Linked DNA regions of Homo sapiens. The protein of the gene in region 4 purifies or fractionates together with the protein of the main gene of each other region. This does not show direct contact. Each region holds a gene or a part of one and is shown on either strand. Other genes may lie near its edges. The genes, in order: SLMAP, FGFR1OP2, SIKE1 and STK26.

Region 1 (7,285 bases), on a different chromosome or scaffold from region 4:
CTCCAGTGGATAGTGTTGAAAGAGCTGTGAGAGAAGTTTTGTAGCTAATGCAACAGTGTTTCTGCCACTGGAAAAATCTCTCTCTCTACATGCCCCTTCCCTGGCCCAAAGACCTTTTGAAGGAAGAATTGATAAGTTGACTAGAGTAGCTGAACCCAGAATCAAATTTTTTTCTTTTTTTTTCTTTTTTTTTTTTTTTTTTTTTTAGAGACACAGTCACTCTCTGTCGCCCAGGCTGGAGTGCAGTGGCGCGATCTTGGCTCATTGCCACCTCTGCCTCCCAGGTTCAAGCAATTCTCGTGCCTCAGCCTCCTGAGTAGCTGGGATTACAGGCGCGCACCACCACGCCCAGCTAATTTTTAGTATTTTTAGTAGAGACGGGGTTTCCACATGTTGCCCAGGCTGGTCTCAAACTCCTGACCTCAAGTGATCTGCCTGCCTCAGCCTCCCAGAGTGCTAGGATTACAGGCATGAACCACCGCGCCTAGGCCAGAATACAATTTTTCTAGAGAGAAAAATAGGATATAATCTATGAATATGAAAAAAAAATATATATATATATATATATATATATAATTTCCAAAACCTATTGTAATTGTATTGTGAAAGTTATTCTTAGCTCTTTTTTGATGAATTGAAGTTATTATGCTGAGGTACTTATAAACCAAGGTGATACTCAAATAGAATTCATTAGAACAATATGGCTTACCTGATGATATATTTATTTCAGGCAGTGTTCAGTAGCAGAAGGTTTTAAAAAATTAAAAAGCAGAATGATTGGAGAGGAAGGAGTTTAGGGGAAGGGGCATATTTGAAATAGAATGCTGGATTTAATTTATTTCGGTAAAACCACTTAGGTTACATCATTTAATATATTCAGCAGATTTTTGTTGTTGTTGCGGTTTTTTTTTTTCTTTTTGATACAGAGTCTCACTCTGTTGCCCAGGCTGGAGCGCAGTGGCGCGATCTCGGCTCACTGCAACGTCTGCCTCTTGTGTTCAAGCAGTTCTCCTGCCTCAGCCTCCCAAGTAGCTGGGACTACTGGCACCTGCCACCACGCCTGGCTAATTTTTTGTGTTTTTAGTAGAGACGGGGTTTCACCGTATTAGCCAGGATGGTCTCGATCTCCTGACCTCGTGATCCGCCTGCCTCAGCCTCCCAAAGTGCTGGGATTACAGGCATGAGCCACCACGCCCAGCTCAGATATTTGTTATATGTGCGTGTTGGGGAAATGATGATGACAAAGTAGGCTCAGTAGAGCTTTCAGCCTAGTTTTTATTTTGTGTTCCACAACTAGGGTAATTGTGCTAAAATTTAGCTGTTACTTGAAGAAAAGTTTCTTTTTGTTTTCCATATCCAGTTAAGTTCCAAGTGAAATTTTTCTGACTGGTTATCAAGAAATTTCAAAATTGATGAAGAAGTATAGCATTTTGCTCATCTCACTGAATTTCAAGTCTTAATAAGCAATGAGTTATAATCTGTCACTGTCTGTTTATTTTGATGCTAGAATTGTGAATATATAATTTATGTTAATATATTTTTATAATGTCATCACCATGATTACTAATATATATAACTGTATTTGTATTTTCTCCCAACTACTAAAATGCTTACTATAATTTGCTTCTAAGTTTTATTTAACTCAGTTGTTCTATGTTGTTTATGCATGTGCAAACATGAGAGAGATTACCAGTCTTTTATTGTAGATTATAGTGTGATACTAACTCTTGCTTTTAAAATAAACATGTTTTTGTCAGATGACTTGCAGGGTGCACAGTCAGAAATTGAGGCAAAGCAAGAAATACAGCATCTTCGAAAGGAATTGATCGAAGCCCAGGAGCTAGCTAGAACAAGTAAACAAAAATGCTTTGAACTTCAAGGTGAGATCAAGATTACTTTGGTTCTTTAGGGATGTGTGGAGGCAGCACAATATAATTGGGTGGCCCCAAACTTGGAGTCCGGAGGCATGTTCCAGATTCACAACTTTATGAGATATGTGATCTTGGTATATTTACTTGACCTCTCTAAACTTGTGTTTCAGGTCAGTAAAATGAGGAGAGTTACAGTTGCTCTACCTTCACACTGTTGATGTGAAAATCAAGTAAGATCTTTACTAACTGAAAGATCTTAATAGTTAATTGCATATTAAGTACAACAGAAGGAAAACTCAAATTTCTAAATTTTTATTATGCCTAATGTTAGCTAATGTCCTGGCCACATTCTTTTCTAGTAGCTCACTTATCTATAGGTCATAAGCCAGTGGAGTCTGTGCAGTTCCCTAGAGCTTACATTTCTGTATCATTCATAGTAACTACCTGGTTGCAGACAATTAGTATCTCAAAGAGTCTTAAAATGAGAAAGGGAATGACTTCTGGAGCCCTCATGTTCTCCAAGATGGCCTTCCTGCCTAGTAGGAAGATTTACATCCCAGGAGGGAACTAGGAACTTCTTGTTACTACTTCTTTCCTTTCCTAATTCTCAAAGAAATTAGAATTGGTATTCACTTAACTTGAACCTTTTGGAGGATCCAGGCTAATATATTAAATTACAATGAAAAAATATTTGGTAAATAGCAATTATTTAGTTTAGTGTTTACTATGTGCTTGACAGTAAATATAAGAATTTTAAGTCTTTTTAAAAAATTAAGTTCAAAATGCTGATTAACAATTATCAAGACTGTTTCTCATGTTAAGAAAAGCACATATTGTCTTGGTGATACCAGGTCCAGAAAACTCCACTACTCAGTTGAATAGATTTATTACTTACTACAGTTCTGTGCTCCTAAAATCTTTAAACTAACTGCTAATACTGATAATACTTACTGCCTAACTTTTGTTTCTTTCAATAATCTTTTAGGAGAGAATTTTAAAAGAAATTTTCAGCTGCTCAACTCTGAGTACTTTCATTAATTCACAAAACTATTAATAGATACTGTGTTTTTACTTTTAGCTCTTTTGGAAGAAGAAAGAAAAGCCTATCGAAATCAAGTTGAGGAATCCACTAAACAAATACAGGTTCTTCAAGGTATGGAAGACCCCAAGGCTCTTTGAGATTGTTATTGTGTGTTTGTTTTTAGTGATTCAAAAGGAATGGAGGCCAGGCGCAGTGGCTCATGCCTGCAATCCCAGCATTTGGGAGGCCGAGAAGGGTGGATCTCCTGAGGTCAGGAATTCGAGAGCAGTGTGGCCAACATGGTGAACCCCTGTCTCCACTAAAAATACAAAAATTAGCTGGGCATGGTGGTGCATGCCTGTAATCCCAGCTTCTCGGGAGGCTGAGGCAGGAGAATTGCTTGAACCTGGGAGGTGGAGGTTTCAGTGAGCTGGGATTGCACCACTGCACTCCAGCCTGGGTGACAGAGCAAGACTCCATCTCAGAAAAAAAAAAAAAAATGAAATGGAAAGTAAGAAGGCAGAGAGTCCCCATTTTTCATGGCTTTGATTCTCTAGAACCTCACATTTCAACACGGCTCTTGGTGGAGCTTTATTTATTTATTTGTTTTTGAGACAGAGTTTCGCTCTTGTTGCCCAGGCTGGAGTACAATGGCGCGGTCTCACCTTACTGCAACCTCCGCCTCCCAGGTTCAAGCAATTCTCCTGCCTCAGCCTCCTGAGTAGCTGGGATTACAGGCATGCGCCACCACACCCAGCTAATTTTGTATTTTTAGTAGAGATGGGGTTTCTCCATGTTGGTCAGGCTGATCTCAAACTCCCAACCTCAGGTGATCCACCAATCTTGGCCTCCCAAAGTGCTGGGATTACAGGTGTGAGCCACTGCGCCTGGCCTATTTTTTTTTTTTTTTTAAAGAAAATTCAAGGGAAGATTGTCCAGTACTCTCGTATTAGACACTTAGAATGGAAAAAGCAGAGGTGAAGATTTGGAGTTGGTAAGACTGTCACTTTCTGAGTTATGTCGTGAGTTCCTACAGAGGGCCTTTGGATAGGAAATCTGTTTGAGCTACTCTGCGTCAGCACTTTGAGCTTGCTGGTATATGTATATATTGATGGCTGGTGTAGATATATTGCCATCTAATGCTCAGAACACACTTGTATTGCAAGAAAATATTTTTTTGCTTGTTTTTTTGAGACATAGTCTTGCTCTGTTGCCCAGGCTGGAGTGCAGTGGTGATCTTGGCTCACTACAACCTCCGTCTCCCGAGTTCAAGTGATTCTGGAGCCTCCCAAGTAGCTGGGACTACAGGTGCATGCCACCATGCCCAGCTAATTTTTGTATTTTTAGCAGAGATGGGGTTTCACTATATTGGCCAGGCTGGTCTCAAACTCCTGACCTCGTGATCCACCCACCTTGGCCTCCCAAAGTGCAGAGATTACAGGCATGAGCCACTGCACCTGGCCTCAAGAAAAATTATATATCACGTGGAATAGGATAGTAGTCTCTGCACTGATTTTCGTTGATAATGGCTGTTCTTCTTATCACCATTTTGCTATTTCTTTGTCTGGGCTATTACAGGGTTATTACAGAAATTTCCAGAAAGACCCCTGCCTGTCGAATGTTTACTTCAAGCTTGAGCTCCTGGTATATTATGAGGAAATTATATGATACCCCAGGAGAGGTCTTCCTTTCCCATGCCATTGTAAAATTCCTAAAGTAAAATTAATTTGCCTTCTTGTCAAAGAAGGAGCCAATGTTGTTTTAAAATTTTAGCTTGAGAGATAGGTGGGGAAGAAATTAAATAGACAAGTAATCACTATTCAGAAGAGAAGGGAGAGTCATTGTACGAGGCCCAAGATACTTGCCCAAAAATATCGCAGAGAAAAACTAGTCTTTGGGGTCCTATTTTTTGAGTGGAACATTTGAGTTATTTAAAATTAGAATTTTATTTTGGTCAGATTAGAATTTCTAGGGTATGTCATATGTGTTTTTAAATTGAAAGCTCTTAAAACTCCTATTGTAGTTTAATGTCATTATCCATTAATTTACATAAATCTGATTTGGATCTCTATTTTCATCGTAGACTGTGTAGGGGCAATTTTTCCTAAAGGTTCTGTGACATAGTGCTACCTTTTTTTTAAAACCTGTCTTGCCCAGGCATTATTGAGTGCCCCCTGGTGCCAGCATGTGTATTTCACGACTGTATCAACAAATCATGATCATCTTCTCTGGCCATTGTGCCCTTTCAGATTCCAAACTTGTTACCTCTCAGTCCTTCCTACAAACTTAGAAAGTCTAATATCTTAATGTTTACTTATGTAGCAACCTCCCTTTCTCCCATCCCTAAATCCTCTTGTAATTAATTATTTTCCTTTGGAACTTTTTAAATCTACAATTTCCTTATAATATGGTAACCAATATTAATTTTCTTGTTCTGCGCCAAGTTTGATTTTATACAAATTGTTTCCAGTTTGGGTCATGAGCACAAAACCAGGTATTTTTAAAAATCTATATAACCCTTCAATGAGGCAGTATTAATTTTATTAACTCATTAATTCAACCAATAATTCTTGATTGTTTACTGTGTTAGATATTGGGGTATCCCCAATACCTGACAGCTGTGAGCAAAACAAATGCCCTACACACATGAGGTGTACAGTCCAGTAGAAAAGATAAACAATAAGCAAATTAATAGATAATATGATGTCCAATAAGGACTTCAAAGGAAAATAAAGCAGAGTAAAGAGCCAGAGAATGACAGTGAGCTGTTTTTCACATGAGTCATCAGAAAAGGCCTCTTTAAAGAATTGACATTTGAACAGAAAAACGAATCAAGGGCGTCAACTGTTTATTGCTTTTATTGCTTACCATTTGACCAAGCAATTCTACACATAGGATTCACCCTAAAAAAAAAAAAAAAAAAAAAAAAAAGGATTGTATATAGTGTTTAAACACTGAACAGCCTAAAATGTCAAAAATAAAGGGTTGGGCAAATAAGTTATATATACTATAACTATTTTTTTGTTGAAAGAGTTTCATCAACAGAAGGATAGGGAACACTGCATTTATTGTGATCACTCCCTATTTAATGTTTGTTTTTACATGTTTATAAATGCATAGGAAAAAATCCAGAAGGAATATCAGAAGTAATTTTCTGTGTGTTGGGGAGATGAAGATCACTTTGGTTTTTTTTTCCTCTTTGCTATCTGTATTTTGACGCTTTCTGCATCAAACGTGGATTGTTTATACACTTTAATCAAAAGCAACAGCTCTGACAACCCAGGTTATGCATTAGCTACAATCCTGTATGGATTATTCTTTTATTCTAATGGGCCAAGAAAATGATGGATATACTTTTGCAGCCCAATTGCAGAGGTTACACATCGATACTGAGAATCTCCGGGAGGAGAAGGACAGTGAAATCACAAGTACTAGAGATGAATTGCTTAGTGCCCGAGATGAAATTTTGCTCCTTCATCAAGCAGCAGCAAAGGTTGCCTCTGAGCGGGACACTGACATTGCTTCTTTACAAGAAGAGCTTAAGAAGGTGAGAGCTGAGCTTGAGCGGTGGCGGAAAGCAGCGTCTGAATATGAGAAAGAAATCACAAGTCTGCAAAACAGTTTTCAGCTTAGATGTCAACAGTGTGAGGACCAGCAGAGAGAAGAAGCAACAAGGTTGCAAGGTGAATAAATGTATTTTACATAAAGCTGTTAACTTTTGACAATGATAACTTCTTAACTTGTTTAAAAAAGAAACATGCAGGCTTTTTTTTTCTTTGTTAGCTATCAGTTGTATAAACCAATGTTTTTAAATCGGAGCTAAAAATGTATTTTCAGGTCTGCAAGTTCTACTTAAATTTATATTTTTTTACGGTTTTATATTTTATTTTAAAATTGTTAAAAATTGCTTGTCTTATAAAAGTGAAGTGGAAAAAAATACTATTGTTCAAGTACAAGCTGATAGCAGTCCTTGAGGTATACATGCAAAGTAACAGGAATCATATAATTAACCATGTAAAATCTACTTGCTTTTAAGGGGGCAAAAAGTATGTTCTCCTCTGAAATCTTTTCCTTTATCCTTTGAAGTATTATGGAAGTTATATTTCTGTATTAACAAATATGTTTTGGGACTATTTTAGGTGAACTAGAGAAGTTGAGAAAGGAATGGAATGCATTGGAAACCGAATGCCATTCTCTAAAAAGGGAAAATGTTTTGCTATCATCAGAACTGCAACGGCAAGAAAAAGAATTGCACAAGTATGCAAGAACTCTCTGTTTTTCAGATATAAAATATTTCTTTATCTTAAATTTTCATCTAAATTAAATTTAATTTTAATACTTAAATATTTTACAGGAGCAAATGTTCAGCCCATCTCTGTTTGGCTATTTGGCA
Region 2 (7,285 bases), on a different chromosome or scaffold from region 4:
ACTAGAGAGAGACCACTGATGGATGTAAGGTTTTGTGGTGATGAAAATGTTCTGGAATCAGGTAGTGGTTATACTGCATAACCTGCAAATGTGTACTAAAATCCAATGAACTGTACCCTTCAAAAAAGTAAATTTTATGGTATGTGAATATCTTAATAGAACATGTACAAAAGAAATGCAAAAAGATTTTCCATTAAGAAAATGAGAATCTTATTTTAAAATTGCACTTATTTATTTTCAAGGCATTCTCATGAGACACTTAGTAACATATTCATTATAACACTCCTGGTTCTTAACTTCAGATGTCAAACTCCTTTTTTAACAACTCAATACCAGATATATGTTCACTGAAGTGCCTGAGTCTAGCTGGACAGTTGGTTAGGGATGCAGGTAAATCTGTTTAGGGCAACACAGTTGTAAAACCAAATAACTAAACTTGCTCCACTATTTCCAGTAGCTTTGTTAAAAATACTATCCCAGAATTGCTTCCTTTTACAAAATAGATGAGGAGATTTGGCTGTGAATATACATTTTCCCCCTCTGATTTCCATCATAATGTCAGAGATTTTATAATTTTCTTAAATGACTTGAAAATTTTTATCAGAAGAAGGTTAAAATAGTGTCTAAACTCCGTGGCCCATGGGAATATTCTGTTATACAATAGTAAAAATAGCAAGAAGAAAGCCCTTATGTATTCTTTAATTGGTAGCACTGAATGAAAAATAAGGTAGCAAGTATGGGTACAATAACTGCACAGAGTATAAATCACATATTACCTTGCATCATTTTCAAAAGCTATTTTGTTGTTAAACAGCATCACCTAAGTACTTTTATAAAGAAAAATATGAACATTTCTACATTATACAAGACAGAACAAAATGTGTACCAACATTAGTAAAAGGTATTATCTGGTCTTTGTCAAATGTTTCTAGACCTAACAAATTCATTTATTTTCTAAACTCAAATGTGCAACTCTGTCAGCAAAATAAGTGATCAAATCTAGGGTTTAGAAATATATGTCTAGGTATATCACCTGAACACGACAAAATTAAAGTAAACCTGAAACACACAAGTCAAGCTACTTTAAAATTTTAGAGAATGTTGAAAAAAATTAGATACTAATTAGCCAGCAATACATAAATGTCAATGACTGCTTTTGATAAATGGAATGAACAAGAAAGAAAAATCAAACCTGTTTCATGGCTTCTACTCGCTTGTTGAGAGCTGTGGTTTGCTCAATCAGAGATTCTGCTGCATCGTCATGATCTCTTAATCTTTCAACAAGAGCTTTAGCGTCGGCAAGTGCCTTCTCAATTGTGCAACTCATTTCTAAAGATATATCTATAATTAAAATTAAAATCAAGACTCAAAATAAAGTCAACATATCTCTTTATTTTAGCTTCATGTCAACACAGATATGCTTCTTAAGCCACATTTGTTACAGTATTGTTCACTGTCCAGGGAGGAAAAAACACCTAAGAACACTGTGGTTTTGCTTCTGTTAGGATACTACAAACTTGAAAGTAAATTTATACTATTACAAAAAAATTAGAACACAGTTAAAAGATTTGCAGACAGAACTAGAACGCATTTAAAACACTCTAAATTTACAGTGGGGAAAAAAGTACATGTCCAAGGAATATAATGTTATATAGAAATTTGCCCTTTATGAGGGCATTCCCTATCTTGTCACTTTTGAGGAAGATCATTTGGTTTACTGGTCAGTATTCTGGGGTCAATGACTGTCTGAAAACTTTGACTGTAAGAATGCTTCCTAACCTCTGCTTGGTCAGGTGACTTGACACACTGTTCACAAACACTGCTGACCAGCCGAAGTGGCCTCAATGTGTCATGCTACATTAAAGTCTCAACCTCTTCTTGGAAGAACTTCTGCTTCTTACATAAAGTTGCATTATAATTCTAACTCTTGCATCTTCCTTAAAGTGCAAAAAAAAGTTTTGACTTAGGACAAAACTGGTAATTACAGGAAACTTCTGATATGCTAAAATCAGTAAGCAATATGTTTAAGAGTAGCTGAAAGAAATATGAGACAAAACATGAAACAGTCAATTGTCAGCTTCTTCAACTGGTATGTAGAAACCTCAAACAAAATTTTAATAATTTTAAAGTCTCTTTCCAAAACTTTAAGTTTCTCCTGAAACTTACACTTACCCTCCTTGAAATCTTTTATCTTCCTTTTTTTTTTTTTTTTTTTTTGGAGACACAGTCTCGCTCTGTCGCCCAGGCTGGCTGGAGTGCAGCGGCGTGATCTCGGCTCACTGCAAGCTCCACCTCCCAGGTTCACGCCATTTTCCTGCCTCAGCCTCCCGAGTAGCTGGGACTACAGGCACCTGCCACCACGCCTGGCTCATTTTTTTGTATTTTTAGTAGAGTCGGGGGTTTCACTGTGTTAGCCAGGATGGTCTCGATCTCCTGACCTCATGATCCGCCCGCCTTGGCCTCCCAAAGCGCTGGGATTACACGTGTGAGCCACCGTGCCCAGCTGAAATCTTTTATCTTTCTACTAAGTTTTACCTAACGTTCAATATAAGTCATCCTTTCTTCAGGGTTTCCTCAAAAAATAAAATCACACTAAATTACCAGGCCAGAAGCCACGTCTACAGAAGTTAAATTAAAATTTGGTGTAGATCCAAGTGAAGGGTTATAAACAAAGACTTTCATCAACTTTATTAAAACAGCAATTTGCCACAGAATTCAGGACTTTGTTATATACCACTGCCCTGGACTACAGATCTGTACCAACTAGTCCAATTAATGATTATCCCCTCCAATACAAAAAAAAAAAAAAAGCAACAAGTAGCAAAGAGAAAATTTAAATAACTCAACAGTATAAAATATTTCATAAAACACATCAGGCAATTTCAGAAGACTTTCTCCTGTTATTTAAATCGCCAATTTAGAAAATGTCCAATATATGATCAGACATTTCCAGAGAGCCTTAAGAAGTAAACAAGCTGGAAATTAATATAACTTCTGGCTCTCTAGAGAAAACCACCACAAGATTTGTCTTGTAAGATTCAGGAGGTTTAGATAAGGATGCTTGAAAATATGAGGAGTAAAAGGGCCATTAAAGGAACCAATATTGTCTGATACTGGCTAATACCCAAAAGGACAACTACCCAAAATCTATCCGAAGATGCCGTTCTGAGAGAGGCATTAGTGCCCAACAATACCCTGTACTTCCTCTAAATTTCCAAAGGAAATTATCTAAAACTGTAGACAGACAACTTTCTTATTTGTTAAGAAAGTTAACATAAATAGGTTAAATGGACATCACTATAACTCCCATTAATCCCATTACTATAGAACATCGGATCCTTCTGAGTAAACTTTTAAAGCTGTCTGTAAAGCAAAATTAAAAAAAAAAAAAAAAAAAAGGACGGGCACTGACTTGTACTAAGAAAAATGAAATAACCAAAAAAATTGGTTTTATAGTAAAAATAATAGTTTATAACAGATGGTGAAAGTAATAAAAGACAAATTTGAAACTCTACAACAAATTGTAAAAGATTTGAGAGAAAATAAAGTTTACCTTGGTTTAATAGAACTCAAGTAATAGAACTCTCTAACAGTCCTAATCTGTAAATGATATTGTTGGGACTACTATAAGAAGAACCCTTCTTTACACACTAAAACATAACATCTACAAATGCAATAGACAGGATCTGTTTCCAAATAAAACGCAATAAGGTCCTATATATGATCAGATAGCTAAATAGCCCTCAGTCTAGATAGTCTTCCTACATAATCATAAATCTTTTTGAGTACAAAAATAGTACCCTGTGTCCTGGGAGTATTAACAACACGACATCAAAACCCCACTGTCTATTATATTGTATACCTTGGGCTGGGCGCAGTGGCTCACACCTGTAATCCCAGCACTTTGGGAGGTCGAGGAGGGCAGATCACTTGAATTCAGGAGTTCAAGACCAGCCTGCCCAACATGGTGAAACACCGTCTCTACTAAAAATACAAAAATTAGCTGGGCGTGGTGGCACACACCTGTGATACCAGCTACTCAGGAAGCTGAGGCAAGAGAATTGCTTGAACTTGGGAGGCAGAGGTTGTAGTGAGCCAAAATTGCACCACTGCACTACAGCCTGGGCAACAGGCTGTCTCAATAACTAACTAAATAAATAAATACAAAAATTAGCCGGGCCTGGTCGGGGGGTGCCTGTAATCCCAGCTATTTGGGAGGCTGAGGCAGGAGAATCACTTAAACCCAGTAGGCAGAGGTTGCAGTGAGCCATAGCACCACTGCACTCCAGCCTGGGCCTCAGAGTGAGGCTGCATCTCAAAAAAAGAAAAAAAAAAAATCGTATACCTTAATTCAGCAGCTAAGGTTTAGCTTCCCTGCCTCCGAGCAATTATAAACCTCAACTGAATTAATCAAAGCATCTTCAGAGGTTATTCTAGGTCTTTAAACCTCATGTTACCATGCATAGTAAATCCCTATTGCTAAAGGAAACCATCCAAAATTTCTATCATTTGAGTAATCATGAAATATTGCTACTCTCTCTTTTTCATATTACCATTCACTGTGTAACAGTATTAATCCAGCAACCTTTACCTACTGCAAGGAAAATCTCATGATTGTGATTCCATAACTCAAGAAGTATTCAAGTCCAAAACAAAACTTTTGAATTTTCTAGTACCAAATCCTGACTTTACTGTTTGTTAATGGGTTTTATCTTAAAAACAAAAATCAGCAGTATCAGGCTTGATATGCAACAGGTACATCAGTCACTGTGATAAAATTCAATTTCTTACCAGAAGCCAGACTGATCAAATGACTTAACTGTGCTCCACTAAGATGGAGCAACTTACTGAAAGTAAATATATACATGAATAGGTGATATGCTTTTAGAATAATCCACTTCTCTGAAATGCTGCAAAGAAAAGAGGTTTCTCAGATATCCTTTTAAAAACAATGAATACAGGGCAGGTGCGGTGGCTCACGCCTGTAATCCCAGCACTTTGGGAGGCCGAGGCGGGTGGATCACGAGGTCAGGAGATCGAGACCATCCTGGCTAACACAGTGAAACTCCGTCTCTACTAAAAATACAAAAAAAAAATTAGCCGGGCGTAGTGGCATGCGCCTGTAGTCTCAGCTACGCAGGAGGCTGAGGCAGGAGAATAGCGTGAACCCGGGAGGCGGAGCTTGCAGTGAGCCGAGATTGTGCCACTGCACCTCCAGCCTGGGTGACAGAACGGGACTCTGTCTCAAAAAAAAAAAAAAAAAAAAAAAAAACAACGAATACATTAACTACTTGATGGCTTGATGGTAGCTGCCTAATATAACTGCTATCATAAAGGTAGAAACAATATTGTAGATACCATAGAAATACCTTAAAGTTCGTTACTATAAGCGGGATGCTTTGACTAAATGTCCTTATGCAAAAGCCTCATATGAAACTGTAAAATAAACCCATGAAGAAGTTAAAAGACTCCATGATAGATACACAAAATTTGGCCTGTCAAATTTCAAAAGAACCATTGTGACCATCAAGTTGTAAGATCCATGAAGATAAAAACTGACATAATCAGAATGGCTACTTGATAGTACCACATAACACCTCAAACAGGGCCAGGCACGGTGGCTCACTCCTGTAATCCCAGTACTTTGGGAGGCTGAGGCAGGTGGATCACCTGAGGTCAGGAGTTCGAGACCAGCCTGACCAATAATGATGAAACCTCATCTCTACTAAAAATACAAAAATTAGCTGGGTGTGGTGGCATGCGCCTGTAATCCCAGCTACTCGGGAAGCTGAGACAGGAGAATCGCTTGAACCCGGGAGGCAGAGGTTGCAGCGAGCCAAGATCGCATCATTGCACTCCAGCCTGGGCAACAAGAGCAAAACTCTGTCTCAAACAAAAAAAACCTCAAACAGATACTACTCCATGAAACATTTCATTTAAGTAGAAAAAAATGGCCACAATATTAAACACGAATGGGAAAACTTACCTTGGATAGCATAGGATACTGGTTAATTCATGCTTCATTTGTAAATAAATTAATCTGGAAAAACTGTAGGCCAGGTGTGGTGGTGCACACCTGTAATCCCAGCACTTTGGGAGGCTGAGGTGGGTGGATCACCTGAGGTCAGGAGTTCGCGACCAGCCTAACATGATGAAACCCCATCTCTACTAAATACAAAAAAATTAGCAGGGCGTGGTGGTGCAAGCCTGTAATCTGAGCTACTTGGGAGGCCAAGACAGGAGAATCGCTTGTACCTGGGAGGTGGAGGTTGCAGTGAGCTGAGATCGCGCCATTGCACTCTAGCCTGGGCAACAAAAGCGAAACTCCATCTCAAAATGAAAAAGAAAAACTGTAATGGTGAATCAACGACTAAAACCATTCCTGAACAACTTTCTGAACATCTCTAAGAAGATTTTATGGAGTTGCCTCTCTCCATGGTTTAGAAATATTTATTATTATTTTTTTAAGTTTAGTTATTTTTAGAGGCGAGGTCTTGCCATCACCCAGGCTGGAACTCCTGGACTCCAAAGACCCTCCACTTCAGTCTCCTGAGTAGCTGAGACTATATAGGTGCATGCCACCATGCCAGGCAATATTCTTAAATATTCTAGTATGTTTACGTTATGAATACCTTAGAAGAGTCCCCTACCGAAAAGACACAATATTCACAATGACTAAAATACTGTATTTTGTGTATTCTCCCAAGCGCATTCTAACTTGTCATCCAATAATATAAAAACATATTTAACTTCAATAGTTGAAACTTATACATTTCGATGATGTAACACTTTGCTTCCTTCTAAGAAACCTTGTCTTCATCATTCCCAGTCCTCAGGAAACCCCAGGCAGGAGTTTCCAACAAGATCTAACTCCAGACACGTTGTAGTCACATTTCCAAAAACTAAAGACAAAGAGAAAATCTTGAAAGCAGCCAGAGAAAAATGACATATTACTCATAGAGAACAATTTGAATGACTGTAGGCTTCCCAACAGAAATGAAGGCCAGTAAAAAGTAGAACAACACTTTCAAAATGCTGAAAGAACAGACCTATCAACCCAAAATTCTATATCCAGCAAAAATATGTTTCATATATGAAGGTGAAATAAAAGTCATTCTCAGCTGAAGAGAAAGAAGAACTTATTTCCAGTAGACTTATTATAAAGAATACTCTTCAGTTAGAAGCAAAGTGTTATCAGAAGGAAACTTAGAACATCAGGAACAAAGGAAGACCAACTGAAATTGTAAATATCTGGGTAATTATTTTCCTCTTAGTTCTTTTAAAT
Region 3 (7,285 bases), on a different chromosome or scaffold from region 4:
TGGACCTACTGGGGGATTGATGCACTGGACATAGATAATTTTCAGAAATGAAAATAACATTGCTTGCATCGAATCAGATTTCACCCACAAAAATGACTAAGGCCTTACCAGAGTTGGCATTGGATGAAACCTTAGTCCTTTATGGAAAGGGAATCATGTGGCCTTCTATTTCTGAAATAGACTAAAGATTACTCATTTATTCTCTGCAATTACAGCCATCAGATCCTTTGAAATCTTGGAAGGCATGAGATGATGACATGAGTGTAACACAAATCCATATTGAAGAGCCCAGTATTTTAAAATTCCCCATGTTCACATACCAAAGGGTTACTTATGAGCTGATGCATATCACAGATAACCATATGATTATCAACTTGATGTCTGGGCAAAGAGCGAAAACAGAAAATGCATTCTACTCTTCACTTCTTGGTTTTAAATATAAGAAACATTATATATATTTTAAAAAACTGTATTCCTTAGTAGTGGTATCAATAGAACATATACAACTGGAATGAGGATCCCCTTAAGGAGGCCTTTTTTTTGTTTGTTTTTTAAATAAGTTCTAGGGTACATGTGCAAAACGTGCAGGTTTGTTAACATATGTATACATGTGCCATGATGGTGTGCTGCACCCATTAACTCGTCCTTTACATTAGGTATTCCTCCTAATGCTATCCGTCCCCACTCCCCCAACCCTATGACAGGCCCCGGTGTGTGATGTTCCCCACCCTGTGTCCAAGTGTTCTCATTGTTCAATTCCCACCTATGAGTGAGAACATGCGGTGTTTGGTTTTCTGTCTTTGTGATAGTTTGCTCAGAATGATGGTTTCCAGCTTCATCCATGTCCCTACAAAGGACATGAACTCATCCTTTTTTATGGCTGCATAGTATTCCATGGTATATATGTGCCACATTTTCTTAATCCAGTCTATCATTGATGGACATTTGGGTTGGTTCCAAGTCTTTGCTATTGTGAATAGTGCCGCAATAAACATGTGTGCATGTGTCTTTATAGTAGCATGATTTACAATCCTTTGGGTATATACCCAGTAATGGGATTGCTGGGTCAAATGGTATTTCTAGTTCTAGATCCTTGAGGAATCACCACACTGTCTTCCACAATTGATTTTTTGAAAGAAAAAAAAAAAAATATCCGTGAATACAAGGTCACTTTACTATGGCTTCATGTCTGAGGACTAAAATTGTAGGGAAACTCCATTGTAACTTCTGTATCATAGATTAAATGAACTTTTAAAAATCGTAATGCACATGCTTTTACGTTCTTTATATCTACAGAACAGGTGATTTTTCCACCTTTGTTTCCTTAATATCTTCACAGGAAATTGAGAGTCAGATTGACAGAATCTGTGAAATGGGAGAAGTGATGAGGAAAGCAGTTCAGGTGGATGATGACCAGTTTTGTAAGATTCAGGAAAAATTAGCCCAATTAGAGGTAAGATTGTAGCTAATTTAGGTTCACAGTATTTCATAGTTTTCCGAGTCTGGAAGATATGCCATCACTATCCCATCACTGTAATATATTGATGTTTTCTGTGTGCTCATGATTTAAAATTAAAACTCCTCCTTCATACCCTTTTATACCCTTTTGAAGAAAGGAAATATAGTAAACAGCAATCAATGGAAATACCAACTATGTATTGGCAAGAACTTGAGGTATTATCATATGGGAAGGTAGAGGGAGTGGAGGGGAGAAGTTATATGTGAGATAAAATCCTTCATCTGCCATAATAAGAAGTGAAGTAGATAATGTCTAAAATTGATGATCAGGAAATAGCAGTATAAGCATATTATTTAGAATTACAGAATTAAATACCAAAAGAAATAGATAAAAGTGTTAAAAGTGGTTGCATTTGGGGTACAAAGCCAAAGAACTGCTTGTATAAGCCTTGTAGTCTTGATTTCTTAAAAGCTATGTTTATGTCATATTTTGATTAGAATAGGAATATGTTACAAAAAAAGTTCGGGGTATTAGTGTGCTCATAAAATTGTTAAGGAAAAACATTTCAACTTTGAGAGGCTGAGGTAAGTGAATTGCTTGAGCCCAAGAGTTCAAGAGCAGCTTGGGCAACATGGCGGAACCCTGTCTTTACAAAAAATACAGAAAATTAGCCAGGTGTGGTGGTGCACACCTGTAATCCCAGGTACTCAGAGGCTGAGGTGTGAGGATCACCTGAACCTGGGAAGTCAAGGCTGCAGTGAGCCACGATCATGCATGCCACTGCACTCCAACCGAGTGACAGAGTGAGACCCTGTCTCAAAAAAAAAAAAAAAAAAGCAAAGCATTTCAGTGAATGGTTTGAATGCTGCTTATTACAAGGTGCTGTCCTGGGGCCTTTGAGAAATACCAGAGAGAAAAAAACAGATACCTGCCCAGAGTCTAGTGGAAGGGATAACCCTAGTATTATATGATATTAAATAATATGTAAATGCTAGGAGACAGATACAAATACCGAAGGAAGCACTTCATGTGGTAGAAGATTCGTCGACCACAGGCTCTAATCTCTTAGTTACTCTAGCTGGGACTTCCGCACATCTTGGTGAAGCTAAAAATGCTTTGGTTTACCAGAGTTTTCTGCAGAGGATAAGGATGAAGAGCAGAAGCTACCCTCTCTAGAAATCAAAGGTAGTGACAGGTCCCAAGTAGGAATTAGGAGCTAGTGAAATGATAGCATGACCTTCTATTTATCCCCGATTTACCTCACTTACGGAAACAGCCCTAAGGAAATGTGGGGCAAATTCTACCTTAATACTTCAAGTAGAAAATACACGACCACCAGATTCAGACCCCAGCAATACCACATCCAAGTTGTCTGAATTTGGACAACTTTTAGGAATTTTGTGAGCCAGAGTATCCTCATCTGAAATATATGGATGTAGGCAATGATACCTACCCTACAGATTATTGTGAGATAACATATACAGGGCACCCAAGTAGTACCCAGCTACATGCTCAATAAGTAATTTCTTTCCCCCTTTCCTTCCATTTCTCTAGAACTGTAAGATATCCAGGAGAGGAGATTAATCAGAGTGAAACGATTATTAGGAATTTTTTAAATAAAAGAAATAATAGTAAAACTGTGGGAACCAAGAAGAATATAACAGTGAATTCCTTAAATGGAGAGGACCTTGTTTTTTGTTTCTCCTTTGTAATCCTAACACTTGGTATATAGAAATTACTCAGTAAATTACTACTACAAAAGAGTATCATTGCCTACATCCTACATGTAAATGTTTGTTAAATGAATAAAGTAGTATTTAAGGAAATTCTCAACTAGTGGATTTTTTGTTTCCATAAATTTTTTAAAATTAAAATAATGTTTTCTGCTCCTGGCTCAAAATAATGTGTTGTTGTAATGCAGTTGGACAGTAAAAATACCAGAAATAAACATGCCTTTTTTTTTCCAGCTTGAAAATAAGGAACTTCGAGAATTATTGTCCATCAGCAGTGAGTCTCTTCAAGCCAGAAAGGAAAACTCAATGGACACTGCTTCCCAAGCCATCAAATAACTGAACTCTGAATGATGGCTGGAGATTGTCTATCAAGGAAGGAAGTTACTGTCTTCCCATTCAAGTACTGTCCATTAAGTGTCTTGCCTCAGATTTGATTTAATCTTAATTAAAGGTATCAGGTGGCAATTTAGAATTCCAGTCAATATTGGCTGTCCACAGTTCTCAGATGTGTTAATGTGAATACTACATGCTGAATTTCACCATTCCTTTCTCAAAGAGACTACTTTTAATTTTCATTTCTGGGACCTTGATTTATATAAACTATGTTTTCAGTTCTTTGTTATTTTTCACATCTCTGAAACTTTGAGCATTTTTTATAAGCCAGCAATTTATTTTACATAGCATTGTAAAATACACTTCTAGGAAATTTTAGGAAAGATTTAACTGTTTAAATCTATTTGGCATAAACCTTGATTTTTTTTTTCCATTTGACAAAAATAATACAATTCCACAGAACTAGATCAGCAGATTCTCTGATTTGTAATGTCATTCACCTGTGACATTTTAAGTCTCTCTGGTGCTAAGAATTGGCACTTTATAGCCTGGTGCCTTTACTTTTAATTTGAGAGAACCTACTGCTAGTCCCAGGAAACACACTTGGAAATAAGTCAGCTATTTTTTTTGCCCAGTGATGCTATAGTTGTCATATTGTCCAAAGTTCATATTGTTCAAAGCTGAGGAGCTTGTCCTGTGTATGTGAATGCACACATGTGCACTTAGTTCAAATACTAAAAGTAGCTTTTATTAAATATAATCAGCCAAAAACACACACAAAATAAAAAAAACAAATATAAGTAGTCAGTTTTTCAATGTTATCCTACTAGTTCTACATTCTATTTTAATTTTTATACAATTTCCATTTTATAGTTAAGAACCATCACTTACTTGGATTGGATGTCTTTCATTCCTAGCACTAATAGTTGGCTTTCTTTTTTTTTGTTTACATAGAAGCAGGGTTTTTTTTTATCTTTTTTCTTTTTTTTTGTTTAAGCTATATAAAAAGGTGAGGAAGCAGTTTTGTTACCTAATGAAAATTATTACACTCATAATGCTGTGTAGGCAACATTGAGATTCAAATGCCCAGTGGTCAACTGGGTTCACTCATCAACTCATTCCCGTCCCAGTTTACTCACATTTCAAATTTATAAATTTCTTCATGTTATACTATTCTATTTAGATTTGCCCAGAATTAGTTGAAATAATGCTAAACCTGTCAATATTTTCCAGTAACATTAAGCACCATACTGCATGGGAGAGACACAGTACTAAAAAGAGTTGTTAGTGCTTTATGTGAGTGATATTTCTTTCGTAATGCTATAAAGAACTACAGTTAAAATAACAAAATATTTTAAAGATGTCCTAAAAGCATCTGATCCCAGTAATAACTAATGGATGTCATCTAGAGCAGTGGGTGTTAATGAATAGGTATATGTCATTTAAGAATTTTTCAAATTTCTGTTTGATATCCTGCATAGAATTTGACAAAAAAAACACTTCCAAGTGTGAGCATTTTTTATTTCATTTCCCAAGAGTAAGTAAGTAACTATTAGCCCAGCCATCTGCCTCGAAGTATACCTTAAGTGACCCCATAAATCCATTCAAGAGGCAGGTACTCTATACCATTTGGCAGCCACGGCCAAACCTACCATGGCCAGATTTCAGTGAAAATGATGAAGTAATCAAATCAAGGTATAATATGGTGTCCCTTTATGTGCTTTATGTTCCTTTAGAGCTGTTTATAAAGTTCTTTATATCTCAAGTGTTAGGATAAATCGACATACTAACTTTTCCCCCTGCAAAATTAAAAGCCTGAGGTACAAGTCTAAGAAGCTTTTAGTGCTCTACATAATATAAATTCTGGCTGGTGTTAATGCTATGAAGATAATATGTAGTTAGAAAATTGAGTCGGGGAGGAATGCTCTTCATTTTAAGTGGATTTTAAAGTTTCTCCTTGAGTGGATGAAGAACTTGCCTGGTTTGCAAAAATCTTAGTTCAAAATTATATTTTCTAACAAAAACTGCATTTTGAGAAGATAAGCTAATTTTACTCAGTAGTAAGTCAAATGAGGAAGTGCAGAGGGTTTTTTTACATATATATAGCAACCTTGTCAAGTGGTCCTCACAAGAGTCATAAATACTTTGTAATTAGCACAGTATATTCAGCAGTGTATAACTCTACAAATAGTACCTTATATTAGTGTAGTATTATATCAATATCTTATGTATAATTCTTATATTAATACCTTATGCATAATTGGATTCAAACATTGAAGGTCTATTTTAGTGTTCTTCAAAATGTGCTTCCCTGACCTACTGAAATAGAAACTTGGTGATGAAGTTCAAGAATTTGTATTCTAATCATCTCAAACAATTCCTAAAGACACTGATTTTAAAATATCTAGTCTAGGCCCCATTGTGTAATAGTTAGCACTCTAAAAGATGAAAAAGAAAATAGTCTATGTGCCAACCACTTCATTAGTACTTATGAATTTAAAAATGAAAAAGTCTGGTACAGGAGACAAGTATATATATAAAATTATAATGCAGTGTGATAAATCCATTATAGTATGTATAAGATACAGAAGAGGGACTTTAAACTTGAGAATTCAATAGAGATAATAAATGGGTAGGAGGGAAATAGAAAACTTTGGTGCCACAAAAGCAAAGTATGTATGGTATTGCCAATAATAGCTACCATCTATTGAGTGCTTTACTACCTGTCAGGTACTGTATTATATAAACTCCATTTTAACTGTACCTCATTTTGCAGATACTCAGGCACAAGGAGGTGGTTATTTGTCCAAACTGGAACCAAGATTCAAACCCAGACAGAGTCTTAAGCACATTTTTAATCACTAACTAACTTGAGATGCCTAAATGCCAAATACTGTTGGGAGTTCAAGTGGTTCTTGATTAGCAAAATCTATTTTTATTAGTGCAAAAGAAACACCACAGCTTATAAAGTATTATGAATTCAATAAATGGAGTCTTAACTAATGAGATATTATTTTCTAGAATGGTGTAGCTGAGAGTATGTGTGATTCAACTGAAAGGAATAATGTTTAATCAGTGACTCTTACTATATACAGGAAAAGGTGCAGTTCTGTCTTTCAAATCTGCCTCCTTACCATATTGGCTTACATCCCTCATGCTGTTTTCTTGTGTTTGCTAGAAAGTTGTTGCCAAGCCAAATGTCATGGCCATGTTGAAGGCAAGGAAGAAAAAATGGAAATGGCCTGTGCCAGCTATATATATCGCCTTTTATGAGGGAAAGCAAAGCTTTCTCAGAAATCCCAAATGGATTTTCCCTTGACTTAATTGCCTGACCAGTTAAATGGCCACTGGTACCTGCAAAGAAAGCAGGGTACATAGCTGTCCCAAATAAAATCAGTATTAGCAAGAAGAAAGAATATTGAGAAAGCAATTAACAGTGTCTGTGACTGTGACATGTCTGTGACTTTATATTGTCAAGTCCTTTCCCCTTGAATATAGTTTTGGAAGAATTAGCTGAAGGAGTGTGTTGACATTGAATGGCCAAGAGAATGGGCTGTAGCAGACATCTGTCATTTCTCTTTTGGCTGCCCAGTATCCTAACTCCTGTGTTTAAGGAATCCCTCACCTAATGAGGCAGAGCATTTCTTCCTCCTAAAGAATTTGAAAGTACCAGGTAATGTTTTCTCAGCCTCCTTTTGCAGCTAAGGAAGAAACATCTGCCTTCAATTTTAAAATTAGTGATACAAAGAAGGAGGGAACC
Region 4 (8,117 bases):
CTTCAAAGAAAACAGGGTTTGAATCATTAAAGAGTAAATATTTGAGTGGAAAGAAACAGGTTTATTGGTTTTTTTTTAAGTTGTACTTTAAATATTTTCAAGAGTTCAGCTACTGGTATGGAAAATTCCTCTAGTTACACACTAAAGAAGTAAGCACAAATTAAGTACAAAAAACTTCATACCCTCAACATTTGGTGTAACGTGGCAAAAAATGTTCGTTACCACAATATTAAGAAATATCAACAATATGAGTTTGAATAACTAATTCATAAGGAAGAGTTTGAACTGGACGAAATCCTGGGTTTTCTTTCTTCACTCCAAGTTTCTTTTCTATTTTAAACTAGTGGCAACAGCAATTTCTTTGTTTGAAAGTCAGGAATGCTGGAAATCTTAAGTGATAGAACAGGTAGCTGGGCTTCTACTTCACGTCTCTCCTCAGAGGGAGAAAATAATTGTGGATAAAGTAATTTTCTTTGTATTTCTGGAAAAATCATTTTTCCCATCAATCTTCATAATTCTCTAAAATAAACTGTTAAAAAGTTATAGGCTGGTCGGCTACCTCACCCTGATTTGTGGAAACACTATACAGTAATTTCAAGAACACATGGCTAACTGAAGTTTTCTAAAGGTCTAAAAGTTGCTCCTAACGCCTTCATAAAACTCTAGGAGAATTTTACAAGCTCACGATAGATTTCTGCATCTCATCTGCAATATTTTGCTACATAACAATAATAAAAATAGTCTAGCTTCAAGAGTCACACTGCATGCTATCAAATTTATTATTAAGGTATTGTACATTTTCAACTATGGAAAAAACTGTGTGCTGCACAAAGTGCTTAAGAACTACATTAGAAATAAAATGGAAATAAGAAGTTAAGAATTTACCATTTCATTAAGATGAAGAGAATGACCAAAAAAAAAAAAAAAAAAGATTCCTCTCTTCTTTGCTAACGTTGAGATGTTTGCCCTACTCAAATTAGGTGGGACAAAGTAATCACAACTCAGAGGGCACAGAGTGAAAGGCAGAATTTGTAATTTAAAGTATATGATTCACATTCGAATCCACATTAATTAAGATTTAAAAATTCAAGAGATAGGCAACTCAGATAATTAAAAGCAGGGAGCAATCAGAAATACTGAACAGCAAGCAGTTCCTAAACCATATAAATTCAATAAGTTCAAGACAAATAAAATAAAAATCAGAAACCATTTTCCCCTCAGCACACAGAGTTCCCCAGAATCACAAACTTGATGAACTGGAGGCACTCACTCTGCTGACGCACACACGCAGGCTCGCGCACACAATGGAGCGAGAAGCATGGAGACCCTCAGAGACAAACTTCACATGTGCATCGTTTTACTCTCCACAGAATGGAAAGAAGAGCACGGTGAGAAAATGTCACTTTTTCCCAGATCAAACAGCAAAACTGTACTTAGTATTGTGAACTATGAATTCCCTTGATACAATCAAAGGCAGAACTGAATGAATGGGGTGTGGGGCAGGGTGCGTGGGGAAAAGAAGGAGGGAAGGAGAGGGGAGGCCGCCTGAGAGGAAGAAAGTTTAAGGCATTTTGCAAGGCTTGAGTGGATTAATCTTTTTTTTTAAGCCCTACTATTTCCTATTTCCCTTTCTCTCTCTCTCTTTATTTAATATACACTAACTTCCTGAGACTCAACCCAGACTTGCCCTAAATGCAGCTGAAATGTCTGGTGTTTAGGACACACCAAGAGTTCTAGGTGCACAAATAAATCCCATTTTGGGAAAGAATTTAAAAATCACTTTTGTGGACATTCATAAAATGAGAACACTGAAAAAAAAAAAAAAACTCCATGTATCAATAAGTAAATTGAGGCCCCAGTCTACAGCTCTTTGATTTCTACTAGAAATATAAGCTATTTACTATAAACATTTTATTTTTGAACTTCAAAAAAGTTTGTTTTCACATTTTAGATCATGAAAGACTGAGGCTTCAGTGGTTTTAGCCCCTAAATGGGTTGTTTAGGCCATCTAGCAAAGGAAAAAAAAATAGAACATGAATGCTTTAAAAAGTTAGTAAATTTGGATAACACTTAGCAGATAGCCTAAAATGCACCGATTTAAAAACATAACAGCATAAAAAGTTTTCTGACATAGCTTATCTTTAATAAAATGAAAATATAATGGGAGGGGGTTGGGCTGGGTAGACTTCGAGTAACAAGTTGGGTCCCATGCAGTAGTCCCTTGTCCAAGACAAAAAGCTTCCTTTAACCACATGTAACAGTCATCTTGTGGGAAAGGCACGGAGGGGGCTGAGAAGTCATCACCTCAGTGACTCTGAACAGAACCAGCATTTCTCACGCCACACTATGGGCTGGGCTAGGTCGGGGAGCAAGCTACAACTTTGCCCTTAAGCAGCAGTACCGAAAGGGAGAAAGAGGTCACCTCTCTCTTAGCCCTACGCACACAGGAAGAGCCCAATTCAAGCCGCCGCCGCCGCCACCCCTGGTGTTGCCCCGCCCCAACTTGAGTGTGTGTTTGGGGTGGGGGGTGTAGGGCACTCACTACTCGCGTTATACCCCACAAATTCCAAGGCACTTCCATCTCTCCCAGGTTAAGTTCCGCCCCCCCATCCCCAACCGTGCCAAGCTCAGCAGGCGCAGGTGTCTGTGGCTCTGGCCTATTTTTATACCCCCAACCGCCCTCAATCTCCACCTAGTTGCGCGCTCCAGTCCCGCCTCGCCTTCCCAGCGAAGAGCACTACCTAGCCTACACACCAGGAAACACCTCCAGCCCTACTCCCAGGTCACCTGGCCATAGTGACCGGCCCTGCCCTCAGGGGAGCCCTGGGGCCGTCCCTTGTCGCCGGTGCCCAGCACCGAGGGCGCACCGGGCTCCCAAGCAGTCACGTGGGCGGCGGGGGCGGCCTGCGCTTCCTCACCTGCATCCCAGGCACTTGGACAGCCACCGGCGAGTGGGCCATGGAGGCGAATGCTGCCTCGCTCCGCTTCTGCGGCGGTGGCGCCTTGGGTTCGGACTGGCTCCTCCCTCCGGGGGTAGTTCGGCGGCCCTCCCAGGCTTTTCGATCGGGGCCTGGGAGGACACACAAAAGTGGGGTTACTGGGCTGGCGGCGCGTAGCCCGGGGCTAGGAGGTGGGCTGTTAGCGGCGCAGCTCCCTGGGACTCAGTCTACCTTTCTGGCGCCCGCCCGCCGCTGAAGCAGCCGCCTCCGCTGCTGCTCCTCTTCCTGAACGCCGAGCGCTGTGAGTGGTGGTGGCTGGGACCTGGGCTCGAGTGATGCCGCTCCTCTGCGCCTCGCCGCTTTAGGAAGAGGAGGTGGAGGCGCCCCAGCCACCCGCCTGCTCGCCTGGCCTGGGAGGCGGTTGGGGGCGGTTCCGCCGTTGGCCCTGCCCCCGCCCCGCAGCCGGGCGGTGTCGCGGGAGCCAAGGCTCCAGGCAGCGAAGAGGTTTGGCTGGGGTTGCTGGAGTCTGAGAAGCTGGAGACTCTCCCGGCACGCGGAGAGGAGAACCCGGGGACCCGGAGACCTGGGACATGGCTGGGCCTGGGAAGAGAATGGAAGAGTTTGGGAAACCCTGAGGGTATGAGGGCGCCCCAGATGCGGCCACGTTGCAGGGAGGCGTGCGAGGCTGGGGCACACGCAGCCTCGGAGACGACTTGAGCTGAAACTTGGGGAGTGTTGGAAGTCTTTCTTGGCTCCCCGGCCTGGCCAAGGGTAGGATTACAGATAGCCGCGGAGTCGGTGGACCCCCGCTTTTTCCCGCCATCTGGTCTCCTCAGCTGGGGGTCGCGCCTCTGGGCAGATCTGTGGCCACACTCTTGCTTTCCGAGTTCCCTGACCCCAAACATGCTTCAGGTGACTTCAACTTAAGGTTCCCCCTACCTCCTGGGCTATCCCTTGCAGAACGGCCAAACTAGGGCTTCTCTCTACCACAAGTTCTGCACGTGTAAGGCAGAGGGAAATTGGAAAACAGATGGTACATCGGCAGAAAAATTAATGAGGATAGTAGAGGCTTGGGAAATGAGATTGGATCGTTAGCAGTACAGGTTATTGAAATCAGCATACACTGCAGTGGTTTTGGTAACTCCCTGCCTCCGCCCCATTTTAAGTTCTACTCCAGGAGAGGGAGACAGGCTCTTTTGAGAGTACTCTAACAGTAGCGACAGTAACACTGGTAATAATAGTAACAGGAATTTCATTATGAAGGCACCTTTGGGAACACGTAAGGGGTTAATTACTTTTTAAAAAAGTAATAGTCGAGTGCCAGTTTAAAATGAAGATGAAGTTCCTTACCTTGAAATTTGTTATGGGTCTCTACGCACCACACGGTGGGGGGCCTCTAGTGGTAAAAGATAGTTTCTCTTCTTCCTTTTAAATCTTTTTCAGAGAATAGTATATAATTCTTATCAATATCGTTATTATTAATGGATATTATTTTCATTGTGCCAGGGACTGCTAAGTGCTTTCTATGTGTTATTAATACCTTACTGAACCTGTACAAGGGCCTTCTGGAGTCTTATTGATTTCCCCTCATTTTACAGATGAAGAAAAAGGCTCAACCAGGTTAAATAATTTGACCGAAATGTCACGCAATTAAGAAGTGGTACAGCTGGGAATTCAGACGCAGGTCCCTCTGACTGGTGATAAACTTACTACTTTCTCTATGGTTTCTGTTTGTGTTTAATGATGATAAAAGGTACAATTGCATTTTCCTTACTCCTAGTTCCCCAAGTCCAGCCCTTCACTATTTCTAACCTAATGTTAGGCTCCAATCTAGTCTCGATTTCCCACCAACCCAGCTCACAACATTGCCAGCCTGACCGGAAACCTGCAGTGCCACCTAAACTTTTAATGTCCATAGAAATCCGAGGGTTCTTTTGCTCCCTCAAAAGCGCAGATTTTTATCTCCCATGTCTGGACTGGGCCCAAGATTCTGCAATGCTAACAAGCTCTCACATGGTGATGATGTTTAGATCACACTTTTAAGTCGCAAGGGTCTGAATCAAGCTCCATCATTTAAGACCTGTCTCAAATCTCACCTCCATTGACCCTTCCTAGTTGCTCCAAGCCCTCCTTCAAACTCCTCCAATGTGAGCAGCGCTCACACTGTAGTTCTTTCTTCTTATTTCATATATTTCATTTGTTTTGTGTGCCCATATTAGGTCCTTGAGGGCAGAGATCCAGCCTCTCTTACATGAGAATGATTCAGGTAGGATGGCAGGAGTCTGAGGGCAAGCTTTTTATACATTTTGTCCATTGCTGTATCCCCAGAGACTAGGTTCATGGCATGTAGTAGGCCCTCAATAAATAATTGTTGAATGAATGAATGAACTTCTTTTGAATTCTCCACTGAGGTTACTAGGTGCATAATGTATACACTATATATTTTATTGATGTCAGGTTAAACCCCTAGGCATTGCCCTTACTGAACATTTAAATTGTTCAGTTTATTGTGTGTTACATCTTTCATTATTTAGTCTCCAAAATTCTTTCCTGCTAGTTTAATTTCACAACTACTTATGAGCCAGTTGTATAATTTTGATAGATAAGTAAATTAAGCATATCAGAGAAATGACTTTCTCTGACATCATTCTGGGCCAGAGTTATGTAACTATGTGGAAGAATAAAAGCTTAATGCTGAGACCTGGAATATTGAGACATTTCCTGAAAGACATTGCATTTGAGATCTTAGTGAGCTTTTTAGCCTTTATTTAGGTTTACTGCTATTAAATAAAGCATCAGTTGTTGTTATAATTGATAGAGATCACTTGAGTTTTTACATGGGATTGCTTGTGGGCTTTTAAATGATTTTTCCTGTGTGTGTGTGTGTGTGTGTCTGTGTCTGTGTGTGTGTGTGTATCTATAAATTAAATCTTGTGAAGGTGTCAACATTTGAAAACAATTCAAATTTTATGAGCATTAGAAACTTTTTTTCCACTTTGAACTGGATTATTTCTCAAATTCTTAAATAAAATGACAAGAAATTCAAGTACGCTTTTGTTACACACACACACAAAGGAAACTTAAATATTTTACTTCAAATTGTCAGCCCAGGCCAGGCGTGGTGCCTCACCCCTGTTCCCAGCACTTTGGGAGGCCGAGGCGGGCAGGTTACCTGAGGTCAGGAGTTTGAGACCAGCCTGGCCAACATGGCGAAACCCCATCTCTACTAAAAATACAAAAATTAGCTGGACATGGTGGTGTGTGCCTGTAATCCCAGCTACTCTGGAAGCTGAGGCAGGAGAATTGCTTGAACCTGGGAGGCAGAAGTTGCAGTGAGCTGAGATCATGCCACTGTACTCCGCCCTGGGCCACAGAGCGAGACTCCATCTCCAAAAAAAAAAAAAAAAAAAAGTCAGCCCAGAGTCTGAAAATATATTACAGTGTATTCCCGTAGTTTAATGGAAAACGTTTCTTGAGGAGAGACACAACTTATGCTTTTTGGTCACACGTAGAGTGTAACATAGCACCTCAGAAAGGATTTGGTACCTGCTTGATTGATGTGATCTGAATGGCTGTGAATACTTAATAACCATATAAATAAAATAAGATTATACACAGATTAGGTAAGGTTTTGAGTAACATTATACACAGATTAGGTAAGGTTAGTGAATTTCAAGTTAGACAGTGTTCTTGAGGCCTCAAAACTTAATAATTTACATTTGGCACCTGGTTTCAATTTCCTGACATTTGTCATACCCTCTATTCAGGTTGAGTATCCCTTATCCAAAATGCTTAGGACAAGAAGTGCTTCAGATTTTGGATGTTTTTGGAGTTTGGAATAATTGCATATACGTAATATCTTGGGTATGGGACACAAGTCTGAACATTAAATTCGTTTATGCTTCAGATACACCTTATATACATAGCCTGATGATAGTTTTATACAATATTTTTAATTTGTACATGAAACAAAGTTGGTATACATTGAACCATCAGAAAGCAAAGGTGTCAGGTATGGAATTTTCTACTTGTGATATCATGTCAGCACTCAAAAAGTTTCCAATTTTGGAGCATTTTAGATTTCAGATTTTCAGATTAGGGATGCTCAACCTGTATTAAATATTTAACTTTACCCATGTTTACAAATATTTACTGAATTGACTGGTTCTTAGCTAAAGTGTAGGTAGATGGAAATAGCCAAACTTTAATACAGGCGGCAGTGAAATAAGGGCATGTTTTTCAACTAGGACCAATTATGCCTTCTGGAGAACATTTCTGGGTATCACAAATAGGCAGGTAGGTGCTACTGGCATCTAGAGAGTGGAGGCCAGGGATGCTGTTAAACATCTTACGACGCACAGGGCAGTCCCCACAAGAAAGAACTATTCAGTCCACAATGTCAATAATGATAAGGTTTGAGAAACCATGCTCCGCACTTTTTGCATTAGGAGCTACTAACCAAGAAACAGACTTGAAAATCATTGTTCTCTGAAGATTTTAGCTCAGTGTTGTGGCTGGGACCAAATAAAGAAAAGACTCATAAGATATTGAGCCACATCAAGTGGGTAATAGAAACAAAGCAGTATTCTTATTTTACCTCTGTAATGAACCATAGATCATCTGCCCCCTAAAAGTGAATACAACTTAATGAAAAATAGTGTTGAACAGAAAATAACTTTAAGTAAAAAAATAATGATTTTTTAAAAAAATTAATTACTGAGCATGTTCTAATATACCAGGCATTACCTAGCCTTCAAATATGTTAACTCATCATGATAAATTTGACCTCTTATTCTACTTTACAAAATTTAAAGGTAGGATTTCACATTTTGGACTTACACATTTTGAGCCTAGTGACTATGATGAAATGGATAAAATGTATATATGTATGAAATATAATGGCAAATTGATATACTTACCTGAGTATTTGAAACTAAAGAAAATTATCTGGGTAATTCTAGAAGCTCACCATCCAGTGATGGGAATATTTTGATTCAGGCTGCGGAGTCTACTGATATTTGGAAGTACAACATTCAAGGGCCATTTTTTATTTTAATAAAAGCATAGATGATACCTCAAATTTACTGTTTACTCTCATTGGACATCAAGTTGGAAACCATGTTATGATAGTTCTTGCAGATGTCATATGTATCGTTGCTATTGTTCCAGCATAGCATC

Evidence for each region.
Region 1: the proteins of STK26 (region 4) and SLMAP purify together in Homo sapiens (affinity purification with mass spectrometry; 5 studies listed by BioGRID and IntAct, with this or other methods). This does not show direct contact.
Region 2: the proteins of STK26 (region 4) and FGFR1OP2 purify together in Homo sapiens (affinity purification with mass spectrometry; 4 studies listed by BioGRID and IntAct, with this or other methods). This does not show direct contact.
Region 3: the proteins of STK26 (region 4) and SIKE1 purify together in Homo sapiens (affinity purification with mass spectrometry; 4 studies listed by BioGRID and IntAct, with this or other methods). This does not show direct contact.

Annotation. Positions count from the first base shown.
Region 1 is NC_000003.12:57,906,127-57,913,411, forward strand, and holds part of SLMAP (sarcolemmal membrane-associated protein), read left to right. Parts: intron 1-1,757; coding exon 1,758-1,880; intron 1,881-2,928; coding exon of another isoform or gene 2,929-2,949; coding exon 2,950-3,024; intron 3,025-5,760; exon of another isoform or gene 5,761-5,795; intron 5,796-6,012; coding exon of another isoform or gene 6,013-6,065; exon of another isoform or gene 6,066-6,254; coding exon 6,255-6,575; intron 6,576-7,031; coding exon 7,032-7,149; coding exon of another isoform or gene 7,150-7,216; exon of another isoform or gene 7,217-7,285. UniProt on the Homo sapiens protein: Associates with the striatin-interacting phosphatase and kinase (STRIPAK) core complex, forming the extended (SIKE1:SLMAP)STRIPAK complex.
Region 2 is NC_000012.12:26,948,201-26,955,485, reverse strand, and holds part of FGFR1OP2 (FGFR1 oncogene partner 2), read right to left. Parts: intron 1,342-7,285; 5' UTR 1,328-1,341; coding exon 1,193-1,327; intron 1-1,192. UniProt on the Homo sapiens protein: May be involved in wound healing pathway.
Region 3 is NC_000001.11:114,770,514-114,777,798, reverse strand, and holds part of SIKE1 (suppressor of IKBKE 1), read left to right. Parts: intron 1-1,339; coding exon 1,340-1,453; intron 1,454-3,426; coding exon 3,427-3,528; 3' UTR 3,529-7,285.
Region 4 is NC_000023.11:132,018,461-132,026,577, reverse strand, and holds the start of STK26 (serine/threonine-protein kinase 26), read right to left. Parts: upstream 3,277-8,117; 5' UTR 3,171-3,276; intron 3,071-3,170; 5' UTR 2,961-3,070; coding exon 2,919-2,960; intron 1-2,918. UniProt on the Homo sapiens protein: Serine/threonine-protein kinase that acts as a mediator of cell growth. Modulates apoptosis. In association with STK24 negatively regulates Golgi reorientation in polarized cell migration upon RHO activation.